2 separate regions of the Homo sapiens genome follow, and region 1 is linked to region 2. Evidence: fine-mapped expression QTL. Tissue or cell type: whole blood. Region 2 holds a variant in brackets; the other region holds the start of a gene. All regions are shown on one strand. Distances are between the middles of the regions. Region 1 holds the start of STN1 (STN1 subunit of CST complex). Region 2 overlaps STN1 (STN1 subunit of CST complex).

Region 1 (2,936 bases), 33 kb after region 2:
AATATTTTGATTCTGCTTAATTCAAAAGAAAACAAACCCCCTTTACATATCAGGAATCAAAAGATTCCATTACACAGGGTTAAGCTCCATTTTTACAAAGAAACCCAGACTTTGCAGAAGGTGAGTCACATGCCCGGACCAGGTAAGTGGCACATTTAGGAAAGGAGCCAGGCCTAGGAATATCTGGCCCAGCGATCTCTCCAACAGGAGCAGGGCCAAAGAAAAACAAATGAGCATTTTTAAGCATGAAAGACCCTAAATGGAGGTAAAAACCCCAGTACAAAAGTTACTCCCCCAAACACCTACTAAAAAAAAAAAAAAAAAAAAAAAGATTTAGACTGTTTTTTTTACCTTGCAAATAAATGAACTCATGCGAAGGTCCAGGCTAGGTCCCTTTCAAAGCCTGCAGCAGGGAAGGCTCTCCTAAAAGCCTCTAATCCCAGCTTTCTGAGACTTTGGGAAAGGGTGGCAGATGCAGCCCAGGGCATCCCAGGGTGGCTAGCCACATACCTGGCACCTGGCGGGACTCCTTCATGTCCAGGATATCCCTGATGTAGAGTTTTGCAAAGGCTAGAAACACAGGATCCAAACCCCACAAGAGGGAAGGGGTCTCCTCTTCACACCGGCTGGATCCAGGCTGCATCAAGAGGCAGGGCTGTGGCTTCCAGCTAACTCTGAAAGGTTCTGCATCACTGAGTCAAGCATCTAGATGGGACACAGAAATGAGGATGCAATGCGTTTAACGTGGGTCAAAGTGGCACGGCCCTGACGCTGCTCCCAGGTGGGCGTCCAGGACTCCAGGAGGGGTGAACGCAGGGATCCAGGGCCCTGTCAAACTCCATGCCACGGGGCGTGTTAAGAGGCGTTCCTCACGTCAGGACGCCTGCGTTCCTTACGGCTCTCCCGCTGTTCTCCTTCCCACAAAGCACCAACTTCGGAACGGCTAAACATCAACTTTCACTCTGGGAAGATACGTCTGTACAGGCGTAGCAGAAACCGCTTGGGGTCCCGGGAGGAACGGGCGCCCTCGCAGCCCTGCACGTGTTGGGGCATAGTGGATGGGTCTGACTGTCGCTCTGCCCTAAACTTTCCGCTTTTGGGGATGAGCCAAGAAAAGGAGGAAAAAAGATACTAAAAAATGGACCCACTTGTAGCCCCTCCCGCCGCCTGCAGCTCCAGGAGCCCTGAGACCTGGCCCTTCCGGCGCTCGGAGCCGCTGGCGGCGACGACCCCGCCCGGCGCAGGAGCAGTTGGCTGAGGTCGTCTCTGGAGTTCCGGCCTGAGCCCGCCCCCTGCCCCGCCAGGGACCAACCCCGGTCTCCCCGCCAGCGCATTTCCTTTCTGCTGCAGCGCCTCGCCACGGCTCCGCCCCATCTCTCCCGAAGTCCCGCCTCATCCCACCCAGACCCCACCCATCCCGCCGCGGCCACGCCCCATCCTGCCCGAAGCCCCGCCCCATCCCGCCCGAAGCCCCGCCCCATCCCGCCGCGGCCCAACCATCCGCTAGGCCCCATCCAGCCGAAGTCCAGCCCGTTCCGTGCCCCGCCTCAGCGCAGCGTACTTTTGGTTCAGGCAGCGCTGCAGCCCCGCCTTCGTGCTAGCCTCCACCGCTGAGGCCTAGGAGGCGACCTTGAAATTCCTGCAGTTCTAACGCCGCTCTTCTAGTCACCTTTCACCCCTCCTCCTGCTGGTGGCGGGACCCTGAACCTGGGCCTCCTAGAGGTTGGGTCAGGATCAGACTATTTTTCTTTTTGATTCCTGATATGTAAAACAGATAAAAAGTAAGCAGTGCCACGAGTGCATTGTGGCATATTTTAAATGTTCATTTACAGTTGGTAAGTGACCTGACTCACACACTTAGGACTCTAGTTTCACTTGGAGATGTCAATATCTAAATTTGAGCCCTCGAGTGAATGTGAGGTCTTGACTCTGCCAGAGACTAGCCGTGCAAAATCATGACAATACATTTTGTCTCCTTTACCCTTGTTCGGTCTACAGTCTGGAAGGTTGTACACTTAAGAACTTTGAAAAGCTGGCATTTTGGTAAATCATGGCCACCTTGATGGTGCTTAGTCTCCAGAATTTCTATTTTAAAGTGAGGAAAGATAGCCACGTTCCACTCCCATAAAGAGCTACGTTACCCGAGACGTCAGGAATTCTTCCTAATTTACAGAGACTCTGGAAAATGGCAGGGGAGTACAGATCACCCTGGCAGACCATTCCCGGGGGAGGCAGGTGGTGGCCAAAGAGATAATTGCTAAACTATTTATCAGAGAAGGAACTTGGAGCCGCTGGAATGGAAAGTGTGTGTGTCATTAGACCCATGGCATTTAATTACCTCCCCGGCCATTTAAGAAGCTCAAAAACAAGAGTCCTTGGTAAAATACATTGCCCAGATTCTACTGCAATGAACACTAGGAAATGTAGGGTTTAAGATTTAATTAAGAGAAGACACTGGCTGGGCGCGGTGGCTCACACCTGTAATCCCAACATTTTGTGAGGCCGAGGCGGGCAGATCACGAGGTCAGGAGTTCAAGACCAGGCAGGCCAATATACGGAAACCAACCCCCTCTCTACTAAAAATACAAAAATAGCCAAATGTGGTGGCGTGCGCCTGTAATCCCAGCTACTCGGGAGGCTGAGGCAGGAGAATCGCATGAACCTGGGAGACAGCGGTTGCAGTGAGCTGAGATCGGGCCATTGCACTCCAGCCTGGGTGACAGTGTGAGACTCTGCCTCAATTAAAAAAAAAAAAAAAAAAAGAGAGAGAGAGAAGATACCTTCTCTTATAGGAGGAAGGCCCTTGCAAAGAAAACACACCCAGTAGGACAGGTGCTTCCTGCTGACCTGTCAGATGGGGAGAGACAGGTTGAGTGACATTTTCCTGACTGTACACATCTGCTCCAGGGTGAAACCCAAAGGAGGAAATCACTACT
Region 2 (2,500 bases):
AATTTCATATACATCTTATGCATTAGAATTATATAATTTATTGGGTCATGATGTAAAATGTATTTCTAACTTTGAGTCAAAGTCAAACTTCTTTACCAAAAGCAAACCCTCTCCAGTTGTCACAGTTTAAAACTCCATGGCAGGCGCAGGCATGGTCTCTCTCTGCCGTATACCCAGTATCTGGCACACAAAAGGTGCTCCACAAAGTCACTGAAAGTTGTTTACAGATGAAAAATGCTTTAGGCTTCAGGAAGGTGCTCGAAGAGGTATTGCGGTGTGAGGCAAAGCACGGTTCAAGGTTTGGTGCACTTCTGTAGCTTTGGGCAAGCCATCCCTAGGCCTGAGTGTTCTCAGCTGTGGTGAAAACCACTTCCAAGGCCCTTTCCAACCCTAAGGTTCAGAGACTGCTCCTGGGCTAACAAAAATTTGCTAAATTCTGACCTCTAGTGGCTGTGTCCACTCATTACTCCTTCCAACTGGGATTGCTGGCATCTATACTTCCAGGCTGTTTCTTCAACATTCACTCCATAGACTTCCTGAACACCTACTATGTGTGCATTGCTGAGCAAGGAGGAGCAAGTAGAGCTTGGCAGACCTGGAGCTGCCACTGGAGTCCACCACACCAGAATTCAAGCCCTGGCTCTACAACTGGGACAAAGTCACTCCCGGGAACAAAACCACTTCCTTCTCAGGGTGGCTGTGTGGATGAGAGACCAGGGGGAACTACTATGATTTGGTTCATCATATCCGTAATCCAAGAAGATGAATGTAACTTAGTTCCTGCTCTAGAAAAGCTTCATCCCTTCCCAAGAAGAAAAGCCTCTCAAGGAGGAAGAGCTGACCAGCAAGCAAGGATAGGTTTGATGATGGAGGGTGAGGGGCTCCAACCACACAGACCTGCACACGGTAGGGAGGAGCAGAGGGAATTTAGTGCTGCTCAGCTTTTAGTTTCTGCAAGGCCTGGATGCTTGGACCCAGGGCTCAAGGTGACTTACAGGCATCCATGGGGCCCAAAGCAGTGATGCTGACTGTCTCAGAGGCCTTCAACTATTTAGTCAGAAAGGCTGTTCTGCTGAGGGTTATCTGGTGAGGCTGTTCAAAAGTGATCTCCAGTCACTTCGGTAATGTGAACTTAGACTCCTCTCTATTTTTAATTTTTATTTTTTGTAGAGACAGGGTCTTGCTATGTTGCCCAGGCTGGTCTCGAACTCCTGGCCTAAGCAATCCTCCCAAGCATTGGGATTATGGGAGTGAGCCACTGTGCCTGGCCTTAGATTCTTCTCTAAGTGAGAAATTATTATAAAACAGTAAAAGTAGGAAAGGCCAGCAAGGAGCTCCCCAGGGGTTAGTACAATTACATAATTCGACTCTTCTGGAACAAACCCACAAGCCGAAGCAGACTTTTCTGAAAAGTGTTTGCCTGGCAGACATAGTTATCTTATGACGGATCACTATGAGCGGTGATAACTGCGCCTTATATTTTCCCAAGAACTTTCACATGTAGCCTGATTCATACTATACCCCATCATACCTCCACCAGAAACCAC[A/G]AAGGCTAATGTTCTAGAGACCCAAATGACATAAAGATACATTTCAGATATAACCTACTACTATAACTACAAAAGGTTAAACTTCTTTAAGTCTTTTTTAAAAGTTTGTCTTAAGTTTAAAAAAAAAATCCTCCAGTATAAGTAGTGTTATATGGTACTCAGTTTCTACCAAAAGCAGCAGTTCTCTCCAGCTCTGGGATAGTAAAAAATGAACCTGAGCTAAATACATGGGAGATTTTTGAAAAGCTAATGGTATAAAGTAACATTTAGTGAAAGGCTGCCATTTTGGAACTCATCAAATGTTAATTTTCTTCGGTGTGAAATGATTTGGTGATCAAATAGGAGAATTTCTGCATGCTTAGCAAATACAAACTGAAGTTTTTAGTCAATCTAGGTGAAGGGTATATCGGTGTTTATTGTACCAGTCTTTTAATTTTTTTTTTTTTGATAAATTGGAATATTTTCAGAGTAAAAAGTTAGAGATAAAAAGACATGTTCAACATAGAGCTCTTTTGGATAATTTGCCATTGTTGTACCCATACTGAAAGCCAAAATCCAGATTTTGTCAACTTTACTCCAACAATAATACAGCAAAATCCACATACAGATTCTATCTGAAACTGCCTCCTTCCAGATCAATATTAAACCAAGTAGAGGGTGAGCCTTCAGGCCTGCAGGCTAGAGAATTAGGGGTTACCACTTGTGCCATTAGGAAAGAGAACTTCATTTTTATTTAATACTTTTTGGATCATAATTATGCACTGAGTACTCTTCTAACTTTCTAAATGCCAATTCATTTACTTCTTATAAAAACCCATCTTGTAGGTACTATTATTATCCCCACTTTGCATTTAAAGAACCCAAGGCACTTGCCCAACATTACACAGCTAGCAAGTGGCAAAGCCGGGATTCAAACCTAGGCAAGGTGGCTCCAGAGCACAGCTCCTCACAAT

The links.
Region 1: STN1 starts here. The variant in region 2 is fine-mapped to the expression of STN1 in whole blood (TOPMed, PIP above 0.99).

The regions. Positions count from the first base shown.
Region 1 is chr10:103,916,952-103,919,887 of GRCh38, forward strand. It overlaps STN1 (STN1 subunit of CST complex), which reads right to left and starts at 1,233. Exons shown (of 10, transcript NM_024928.5): 1 at 1,149-1,233; 2 at 511-705. The coding sequence starts at 643. RefSeq lists enhancers at 695-1,024, 884-1,529, 1,160-1,454 and a silencer at 1,195-1,544.
Region 2 is chr10:103,884,420-103,886,919 of GRCh38, forward strand. The region is part of intron 9 of STN1 (STN1 subunit of CST complex); the gene reads right to left. Among named protein-coding and RNA genes, the nearest start is that of SH3PXD2A, 30 kb to the left of the region's middle. The variant A/G (reference allele first, on the strand shown) is at 1,548.